Linked DNA regions of Homo sapiens: region 2 is linked to region 1. Evidence: fine-mapped expression QTL. A gene starts in region 1. The other region holds a variant in brackets. All regions are shown on one strand. Distances are between the middles of the regions. Region 1 holds the start of FGB (fibrinogen beta chain). Region 2 has its middle 23 kb from the start of PLRG1.

The links. PIP is the estimated chance that this variant, and not a neighbour inherited with it, causes the effect. A credible set is the group of variants that fine-mapping cannot tell apart.
Region 2: its variant is the best candidate, but not a certain one, in a credible set for the expression of FGB in lung (TOPMed, PIP 0.60).

What each region holds. Positions count from the first base shown.
Region 1 is chr4:154,559,731-154,565,128 of GRCh38, reverse strand. It overlaps FGB (fibrinogen beta chain), which reads right to left and starts at 2,118. Exons shown (of 8, transcript NM_005141.5): 1 at 1,997-2,118. The coding sequence starts at 2,110.
Region 2 is chr4:154,524,320-154,529,717 of GRCh38, reverse strand. It overlaps the pseudogene WDR77P1. Among named protein-coding and RNA genes, the nearest start is that of PLRG1, 23 kb to the left of the region's middle. The variant T/C (reference allele first, on the strand shown) is at 2,112.

The sequences.
Region 1 (5,398 bases):
AAATAACTTATTGCATATGGTACCCTCAGAACAGTACTTGGCAATAATAAGTGCTCATTACTATTTTTACTGGAATCACACATAACAAGTACTACAGTTTAAGTGTCCTCTCCACTTCGAATTTCACTTTTAGTCTTATCTTCTATCAACAAAATTATTTGTTAAACCATTATCTTGAAATTTCTTACATGATTTCTTTATCAAACATTATGATTTTCTTATATTTAAAATAATTCTCAAGGCTTGTGCATTGTAATTAAAATTACTTGCTAACTTAAAATATTATATTAAAGGATAATGAAGCAGAAAATACGCATTGCAATAGGAAAGTTTTGATTTGGATTAACTACATTCTCATTTTTTTTTTTGTCAGTAGCTATACATCCTTTGGAGCTTAATTACAAATTAACAAACGACATGATTTGGAACAACTGAGCAACAACTGAGCTCTCTTGCAATTTTGTGAGTCTAGAAGTCATCAGATGAACTCTATTTGGAATTGCATTGTCATTTATTCATTAGATTATAATATTATTTAACATTTAGTAGGATGGTGCTAAGATTAAAACCCAGCCAGGCTGGTTCCAGATTTTCCTGTTTAACCAGTTGACTATATACATTCTTAATATGTAAAGATTCGGAGGATATATACATATTTCACATTGAAGTCATGGTCCTAGTCAGAGCTTACCCTCTCTAAAACAAATTTTAAGAAATGTGATTCATCTGCTTATTACAAATACAATTATAACAGAGAAAACTATTTTCTTTTTATTTCAGAGTGCCACTAGAGAGGTAGCATGGATGGTCTGGCTTTACTAGAGAAAAGGAAATTTTAAAAAATATTTAAAGAAAGTATATACTTAAAGAAAAACACTTAAAGAAATTATGAAGGCCACTTGTTGAATAATCAAAATCCATTTTAAAGCCTAAACTATTAAACTATCTCTGTGAGGTTTAGTTGATAAGCAGAAATGTGAAAGTGCTTTGCAGAGTACTTTACAAAAATTTCGTCTTACACATTCTTTACATTTTTCTTACCTAATATGATTAACCAGACTTAACCAGATTAACCATATGTTTTTACACACACAACCAGATTAACTATATGTTCTTACATGTAGAGTCTGATAAGTACAACACTCAAGTTCCCTTGAAACTCAATAATGATCCGAAATGAATCACTTCATTTAAATATTATTGTGTATTCTTATTTCTAGTTTAATGATACTATGCTATATGTAAGAAATTTGGCCATGATACGTTTGATGATAAAATTTAAATTTCTTAAATATCCATTGTCCTAAATGCATTTCTGTATTTTTAGTAACTGCAAATTAACAGCAATAAGTCAGCAAAAATAATAGTTGAGGACAAACTGTTCTACAAATAAATAAATTAGACTGAACCGTGTTTCATAACTATTAATAATAACAATACACACTAACTCTAATTTGAACTTTTCATCTGAAAAAAGCAATATTTCATTTTCTATCATTACACTTGATGTATTTTGCTTTTAGGCTTAGTTATAATTTTTATAAATAGTAATCTCAGTAACAATATATATTACCTTCCTTCACCAAAGAACAATCTACCTACCACCAGTTTCTTTTATCTTAAAATTCTGCTCTTTTATTATTTTATAGTTTGTGAGATTTTCAGATCTTGTCCTCTTAATTGTAATCCTGTATTGCTAGAAGTAAATGAAAATCACAGTACTCAGAATAGCAAGTGAGAAAAACACATCTTACATTAGCTAAGCCATCCTCATCTTAAGAAAACAAAGGTGATAAACTAGAAAACAAGAAATTACTTTGTTTTTATATAAGAAATACTATGAAACATTCTTTAAATACAATAAGTCAGAGGTTAACAATTCCATTTCATAACTATAAGCAATGCTAATTTCATTAAAATAAGCACATAATATGATTATGTTACATCTTATATTAATAATACTACTAATAATATAATAATGCTTTAAAAAATTCACCTCCTCATTGTCGTTGACACCTTGGGACTTAACTAGAAAAACACACAATAGTAGCAATAATAGATGTTTCATGGTTTTAAGTTTGTGGAAGCTCCAAGAAACCATCCTTTTCATGTAGACTTAACTGAGAGATCTTCAATCCTATATATATCTGAGTCCTCTGCTAGGAATGACTTCAGAAATGGTTACCTTTCCTTAGTTAATATTTAATTTTTGGTTCACTTGTTGGCTGAACCATTTTATCATTTAAGCAACATCTTCCCAGCAAAGCTTATTTACTTGTCATACAACTATTATTCTTTGTTGGTCTAGTTTAGAAACATTAAATTTCTTCAATTCATTTAATTGGACAAAATGATGGGAAGTTAGGGCACTCCTCAAAGAGAGATGTGTATCTTGTTTCTGGTAAATTAATGTGGAAACTACACAAGCTCCGAAAGAATATGTGAGAAAACAAATCTAAGCTTAGTAAATTTGACCTACTCACAAGGCAACCACTAAAATCGTGACTCATTAATGATATACCATAAATGCTTATGTTTTCTGACAATGACATAATTCTATTTCAAAAGGGGCCATTAAAATCAATAGTAATGTTATATCATAATGTGTTTATCTTTTGTTTTAGACATTAATCAAAATAACAAAATAACAAATTCATACCCTATTCTATGAAAAATACACATCAGAAAGACCCTTTTTTTGTGCTGAATAGCTTTAATATTTTGTCCTTAATTCACATAAGGTAAAATGTTCAACAAATTCTAAACATTATTAAGATAACTAATAAATTATAGATTTCTGAATCAAAATTATGATGATGATTAAATACATGTTTAACATTCTATTTTATTGTTATATAGTTTATATCATATGATTTATAAAAACAATGTTATTTTAACACTGGTGAAGTCTTCATACATCTATTTCAATTAGTATGCTCACAGACTAAATGAGGCCCATTTTCCTTCATTTCCCACAAGCCACAAAATTTATCTCTCTTGTCTGTTCACTTGTGTGTTGCAATCAGGATTAATAACTCCTACAAGAATCAATAGGAACACCAGTCAGTAATCCAAATCCCAGTAAGTGCATTGATTCAAAGCATTTTTCTGTTTTTTGTATGGAAAGTGAAACATTCTCATTAAATTTATAAATTATTTTATTAAAAAGATGGCAGGTTATCAGGGTTTGGATCAGCGTATTGAAACAATGCTTTGAAACAGAGTCTTGAGAATGGTGTGGGACCCACGACATTTCTTTCTTCTCCAGGTAGCAGAGATTGCATTCCCAAATTCTTTTAACTCAGATTCCTAGAAACAAATTATTCTCTTGGTAGCATAGGTTGTCCTCCCAAATTCTTTTAACTTAGCTTAATAGAGACAAAGTACTCAGTTTAAATTAAGAAAAAATATTCACTTGAGTCTTTCCAAATTTGTGTTCCCTTTATTAGCAATGAGTAAATATTATATTTTAAGATTTTTTTCTTTAGCTTTAATGGTTTTTAAAGGGATACATGATCTGACAGAAAAAGCAAATATCTATGTGGCTATTAATTAAAATATATACAGGAATATTTTCCATGAAAATATAACTGATAACAAAGTTTATTTTAATAATCTAGACAGGATTTTATTTTAGTGACGTACAGATTCTTACAGATTTAAAAAGAATTATCTGTTAAGAAAACTCTAACCTTTTTTTTTTCTTTTGAGGTAACGTATTACTACATTTTCAATGACTGATGTTTGATCAACTAACAATAGAATCATCATTTAACTTTCAGAAGTCTGTAAATTTGTAAAGTTTTTTCTAGTATATAATAGACTCTTGTTCAACACTAAAGTGAAGGTTCCTTTACTTTCCTACTTTGTTCTACTCTGATTGGCATTCTTCCCATGGTCAGAAGGAGGATGGATTCAATCCAGCATGCATGCACCATAACAGCACAGACTTAACATTCATCTTACAAATAGTTCTTGAGAGTCTCCTCAGTGACGGGTAGTGTGATAGGGGCTGGGAATGCATTGGTGAGCAAGACAGACATAGTAGGCGTTCAATACATAATTACGGGATGAATGAGTGAACTGGCTGTCATTGGTACATGCCTCAGATGCCAAATTATGGTAGTCATTTATCGTATTTAATTCTTGAAACCACTATGTTCTACAGATGGTGAAACAGGTTCAGAGAGGTTAAGTAAACTACCCCAGAGTGTATAGGTAGTAGGTGCTGGTATGAGGACTTGACCCCTGACTGTCTGACTCTACAGTCCACACTCTGTGCCCATTACATTATATTTCCCAACAGGATACAAACATTATAAAAATTTACCTCTACCTTCTTTTTGTGTGTTTGTTCTTTTGGAGTATTTTGGCCAGCCTGTCATCTTGGGACCATAATGTATCAGGCTGACACACTCACTCATAGCTTTTACTTTCACTTATCTTTTTACCCTCATATGTGGGTATAGTATTCATGTCTGTGTGAAGCATGTGCAATGCAGTGATAATGAGTTTTTGTAATTCTAGTTCTTGTTAGATATGTCTTTTTTCTGTAGAGTTATGTACAGTTACACTGGGACTCTAAATTGCCTAATATTACAAAGAATATTATCATGTTTTCAGGGAAGAAATATATTTGCAGAGACACCGCTTATTAAGATGCTTAAATTTTTTTAGAATGTTGATGCCATTGGTGGAGGGGAAAGGGAGTACTATTTGTTCAGTTATTTTGAGGTCATCAGTGCAGTGTTCTTCATATTAGCTGATGTCATTGCATAAGTCAAGGGTAGTAAATCAGTGACAGAGAAAACAGAGATAATCTGTCCTGCCCAGCAGCTCTCTGGCTTGAAGGGCAAAGACTTGCCGATACCCATTGTCAATACACTTGTTGATACTTTTACAACTCATGTCAGGCCCAGTCTCCATAGCACAAGGCAATTTGTGCTTAACAACTATTTACAGAGCATCTACTTCATAGCAGGTAGTTTGCTGGGGGCCGGGGAGACCTTGGCGAAGCCTTAAGTCTAAAAGGAAAGACAGAAAATGAAAACTACTTACAATAATTAGTGTTGAGCCTAAGATTGGGGGAGGTGAGGCTTTGGGACTGGTAACTTAAGGATCTAACTTTCTTCAGGGGGAAACGAACTTCAAAGGAAAAGGGCTTTTAGACTTGAAACTTGGTTTGAATGACTGTACAGTTTATGTCATGCACCTGGCACATAGCCAGTATTTAATAAATATCGGTTGAGCAAATTCATGAATATATAAATGAACGAATGACTAAAAGGAATACTGATTCTCGTTGTCTAAATATGCATAGGTTTTGAGGTACTGTAATAAGTTGTTAGTCTCTGTATATATTTTCCTTGTGTTACCTTGATTAACACTGACGAGTTGG
Region 2 (5,398 bases), 35 kb after region 1:
TCCCAGGCAACGTGATTGCCTCCAGCTGATGAAGGGAAGAGTCAGGAAGTGGAGGAGAGAAAAACACAAGGATTAATATGCAGGATGTTATCTCACTGCAAGTACCTCCACCATGGTGTCTTCTAACACTATGGTAAAATGACTGTTAATATGAAAAAAAATTTTTGTTTAAGCAAATCAAAATCAGTGTAGTTTCTGTTGATTAAAAAAGTACAAAAGAAAAATATCCATCAAACTTCCTAAGAAGTATTGTCCTGTACTGAGCATGCCAAATGTAAGAGAAAATTCTTAAAAGGAGAACCCATAAATACGGATGTTGCCAAAAAGCATGACATTATCATTTAGTAGATTGCTTTATGAATGAAAACAGCTATTTGAATAAAAAGTCTTGGCTGTCTACCACCCTCTTGGAAGCTGTTTGCAACGACAATTGCAATTAATAATAATTATATTATTAATTAATAATAATTGCTTCCAATACCTTTGGTGGCATTAGAAGGTACTGTTTTCCTTAGGAATTAATTGTAGGATTTTTCATTTCATTCTCACAAGGTGTGAAGGTGGAGACATATTACAGTAAATCATTTGCATTGGAGTGTGGCCAAGAGAGGGAATGTTGCAAGAGCAAAATACGATGAATGTCCATGAGAGAGTGGGAGGCCATAGTAGCTACAGGGAAGTAGGATGGAGCCAAAATAATCTCAAGTGCTTGTATGACTGGGACTATTAGTGAGGAATAAGAAACAAGACTCCCTGAGCGAGCCTGTGACTAAATGAAAGTACCAGAGTCCACTTTCACTGGGGTCAGAATGTTAGCTCTTCCTTGTCCTCTGCTGGTGTTTGAAAAATTTGATATCCATTATTAACATAGGTTCAAAATACTGAGAGAAATAGCTAAGGGATGATCCCCAGATACAATGAAAGTAACTCTGTTTTCTTTATTTCTGGGTCCTAGCTATGGCAGGTTATCTCCTATTTTAATAAGATATTAGAATTTTGCATGATTCATTCACTCATTCAACAAACACTTATTGACAGGTCACCCTTCCCTCCTTCCAGCACAGAGGCAGGTTTTTCTCTGTTTTTATTTCTCTTAGTTATTTCAGTTGGGAAACCTGTGTAACTATATGCAAAACGTATATATATGCACACATTTATTTAAAATTATTGCTGAATTTTGAAAAATCATTTATGAAAAATTATGACATAACATATATTATTATTCTAGTATACAGGAATTGTAATGTGGGCCAAACAAGTCATTCTTGATTTTCAGATGTGCCATAGTTTTAGTTTTACATTTTATTACTTTGTAACATTACAGATTTTGCCAGTTCATTTAATCAAACTTTATTAAATTGTGTAACTGTAAATGGAACTTTCTAAGTATAAGTCTATTCTAGCTAGCAAAATGTATTTTATCAAGTATAGTAACAGAAGAGTGATATACATAGGTTAGAAGTCCGTATCTATGAAAAAAATTCTTCTAAGACTTGACATAATTGTAACCTTATATTGGACTGTAAACTTAAACTTGGATGTATATATTGTCATTTACATAGTGTCATATATTCACACTAACTTGCTTGTCTGTGAACGATTAGAATGCTGAACTTTCACATTTAGACTGTTTTAAAATTGTCCACTACTGAGACTTAAATCAATTATTGATAATAAAACTGCATTATTGATTAATATGTATAAAGGACAGCTAATGTGTTAGTATTACCCTATCATTTAACTTGAACTATGGATGAAAAATGTAAGATATTCCTTTAAGTACTTTCTGTTCAACATCTTTTAAGAGAGACTTGGATTTGAGGGGGTAATAAAACATTTATTCTAGTGTAATGTCACAGATTTGCAGATAGTTCATTTTAAATCTCTGAGGTCTACACTCATTAACACTGACTTATAAAAAAGAAAGAGTTCCATTTACAAGATATTTGGTAAATGAAGAAAAGCATAAATATCACCAGCCACACTGTTCCCTACCCGCCCCCAAGCCCCAGCCACAGGGTGGAAGACATTCATGGACAGAAGCATGCTTTTCAGGGTAAATGTGACTTAGGATTCTTCCTGGATGGTGCATACGCCTCATAGTTCCCCAT[T/C]CTTCCATCCTGGAGAGAGCTGGAGGAGTGGAATGGGGTGTCTGGGAATTCTCCTAACACAATGGGGCAATGTCTTCACAGCATCCCTCCCCATTTGTTGTCATGACTTGCACCTGCAGGGCGCTCACTCCACCAGCTACCGCCCACCTGTGCAGAATCCTCATTTCACTTCCCTTCATCAAAGACCCAGCTGGTGGATGGAGCGCTAACTTCTCCTGGCTTAATTTTCTTTTTCTTAAATAAGGAGACAAATTCAATAAACTGGAACATTCTTCTGGTTTGATTGTGTGGACCAATCAAAATGTGGTCTTTGATAGCTTCTGAAATGAAACATACACACTATTTTATTAAAGGCAGAAAAACAAATATAGATGAAAATATCCAAAGTCTGCTACCAACTTTACGTTTTAAAAAATCCTCAGCCCGATTTTATATAACCATAAGCAGAAATTTCAGAAATATTCTCCTCAGAGGACAAAGTGAAAAAAGTTTTTTAATGCTTCTAACCCTCTAATGAGACTTATTTTCCTTAAACGGTTGGTCTGCCCTTATGTCCTGTCCTGTAACCTGTTTTGTTTGTTTGTTGTTTTTTTACCCTCATCTTTTCTGTGATGATAAATCTGTTCTTTTTTGTCAATGTCCTTGATCTTCCCAGAGCCTGGCAGGTTCCACCCCACCCTCTCCACAGACCTCCCTCCCCTTGCCTTCAGTTCCCTCATCCTCTTCCTCCTCAAGCTGCTCTATTACCAGTAACACATTTTAAATGTGTGGTTGGCTTTTTATAGACAATGGTTAGATTTAATATGTATGATTTATGTTTGAAAAGCAAGCAAGTTGTGGAAAGACTTGGGAATCGAGATTTGTTCTCTTTCTTGGATTGAAATCAATTTTGAAGGGTAGCACATAATGCCACATGCAGCCTATGGAACTTTATATCACACTAGACTTGGTTTAGTACACATGGATCAGGATGATGCTTTCAAAGGTGACATGCTCAAGATTTTGTTCCCCTTGGGAAATTCAGGACAGTGTTTCATCTTTTTTTTCAATAATTGAGGCCTCTTGTCTGTAATATCTTATACTTTCCAAAGAATTTTCATGTATTTTTTTTTAAATTGTGGTGAAATACACATAGAATTTATCATAACCATTTTTAATTATACACATCAGTAGTGCTGTGTACATTTGCATTGTTGTGCAATCAATCCTGAGAATGCTTTTCATCTGCAAAACTGAAACTCTGCACCAATTAAACAATAAACCCCCGTTCCCCTTTCCTCGCAGCTCCAGGAAACCACCTGTTTACTTTCTGTCTTTATGAATTTGATTACTCTAGGTTCCTCATATGAGTGGAATTGCATTTATCTTTTTACAGCTAGCCTATTTCACTCAGCATGGTGTCCTCAAGGTTCATCCATGTTGTAGCCCATGTCAGAATTTCCTTTCCTTTTAAGGCTGAATAATATTCCATTTTATGTATATACCACCTTTTTATTCATCCACTCATGTGTCAATGGACACTCGGGGAGCTGCCACCTTTTGACCGTTGTGAATAATGCTGCTCTAAACATGGGTATACAAATATCTCTTTGAGATCTTACTTTCATTTTTTTGGATGTGTATCCAGAAATTGAATTGCCGGATCACATGGTAATTGTATTTTTCATTTTTTGAGGAATTGTCATATTGTTTTCCATAATGACTGCACCATTTTTGATTCCCATCAACAGTGCACAAGGGTTCCAATTTTTCCACATCCTCACCAACACTTACTTTGTTTTGTTGTTTTTCAAAAAAGGCAGGCTTACAAGATGCCTAAACTGTTTATTTCACCAGCCAGTATTTCTGATTTTCTTCCTGAGGCTGAATTTTAAAACTTTAAAAGTCTACACATACTGCATTTAGACTTTCTATATGCAGAGAAAGGGGCTGAGAGCAGAAGAGGTCAGGCCCCAGGCTGGTTTTGGGTGGGAAAAGTGGCAAAGATTCCTCTGTAACAGTCTGTGTCAGTTTTCTAACAATTGAAATGCCTTTAAGCTCTCCAACATCCACAAAATTTCCTCTAGGGCATCTATGACAGAAAAACACTCCTCTTTCATATACACAACACCAGCAGGGAGCAGAGGGAAGGGAGTTGGCAGAAAGGAGTGGACATTACACAGGCACAGGCCACATTTTTAATTCATCCAGAAAAAGGACTTCTGATTCAGTTTAATGGAAATGAGTTGTATAAAACTATAACATGTCCTGCCTCTTCCTCAAAACGAGCTGGGCTGAATTTTTGTGATTGGAAGCATTTCCCATAACGGTGAATTAAGCGCTATAAAAAATAAAATCAGTCCCATCTCTATGAGTAGCATAAGAGCTGCTTCCAGGAACCTAGGGATGCCCACATTCCATACCCCACCCAGATATGGTCAATTCCTCAGACAGCTACATGGGAAGAATAAAACCCTTTTGTCAACTTTTTTGGGGAGTGAGGGAGAGATGGTGTTCAGGGGAGATGTGGGATAGATTTTTTTTAAATCCCTCCCCCACCGTCCCACCTCCCTACCAAAACCTACACACACACACTCAAGACGAACCTGCATGCCCATTTTTAAGAAAGCTTTTCTTTCCTGTGACTACAGGATCCCAGCATCCAGCCTCCTTCAGGCTGCGAGACGATGCCAATTAATGGCACAGATCTAATGTTTCAACATACTACAGAAGGCTCCTGTGTTATCTCACAAGCTGAGGGAACAGGGGCAAAGAAGTGGACTCTCATGGGGGACTTGCTGTTTGTCTTAAGTCCAATCTACTCAGCAACGCTTTCAGGTCCAGGGGCTGGGAGAGGTTCTGTGGGCACTTGTGGCAGACGACCTGATGGTCCCAGCCCATTGTGGTAAGCAGAAAGTGATTGAGGGGGGATCAAGCAGCATCTCTCGCAAGGTCACAGTGGCCTCGGCTTCTAAACACCTCAGAAAGGCTGGAGTCCAGCACAGCCAGTGAGCCATCTTCGCTGTAAGAGGCCGGGAAGGGAACACGGTGTGAGGAAAACACCAGCCCAATGACACATTGGTCTTGTACAGCTGAGCCAAGGGCACCTCTCCCTCTCTTGGTGTCCACAAGGGAGACTGTCCCATTCCCATCACAAAGATGAAGACTTCACTTTGCTGAGGATGCCAAGCCAGTGAGGTGGGAAGGCAGCCAGAGGCACTGCAGCCCACCTGTGACGTCGGCTTGGTCAGAGAGTATCCCAGAATAAAATTCTACTGTTCTCACTGCAGGAAAGAAACACAGAGTCC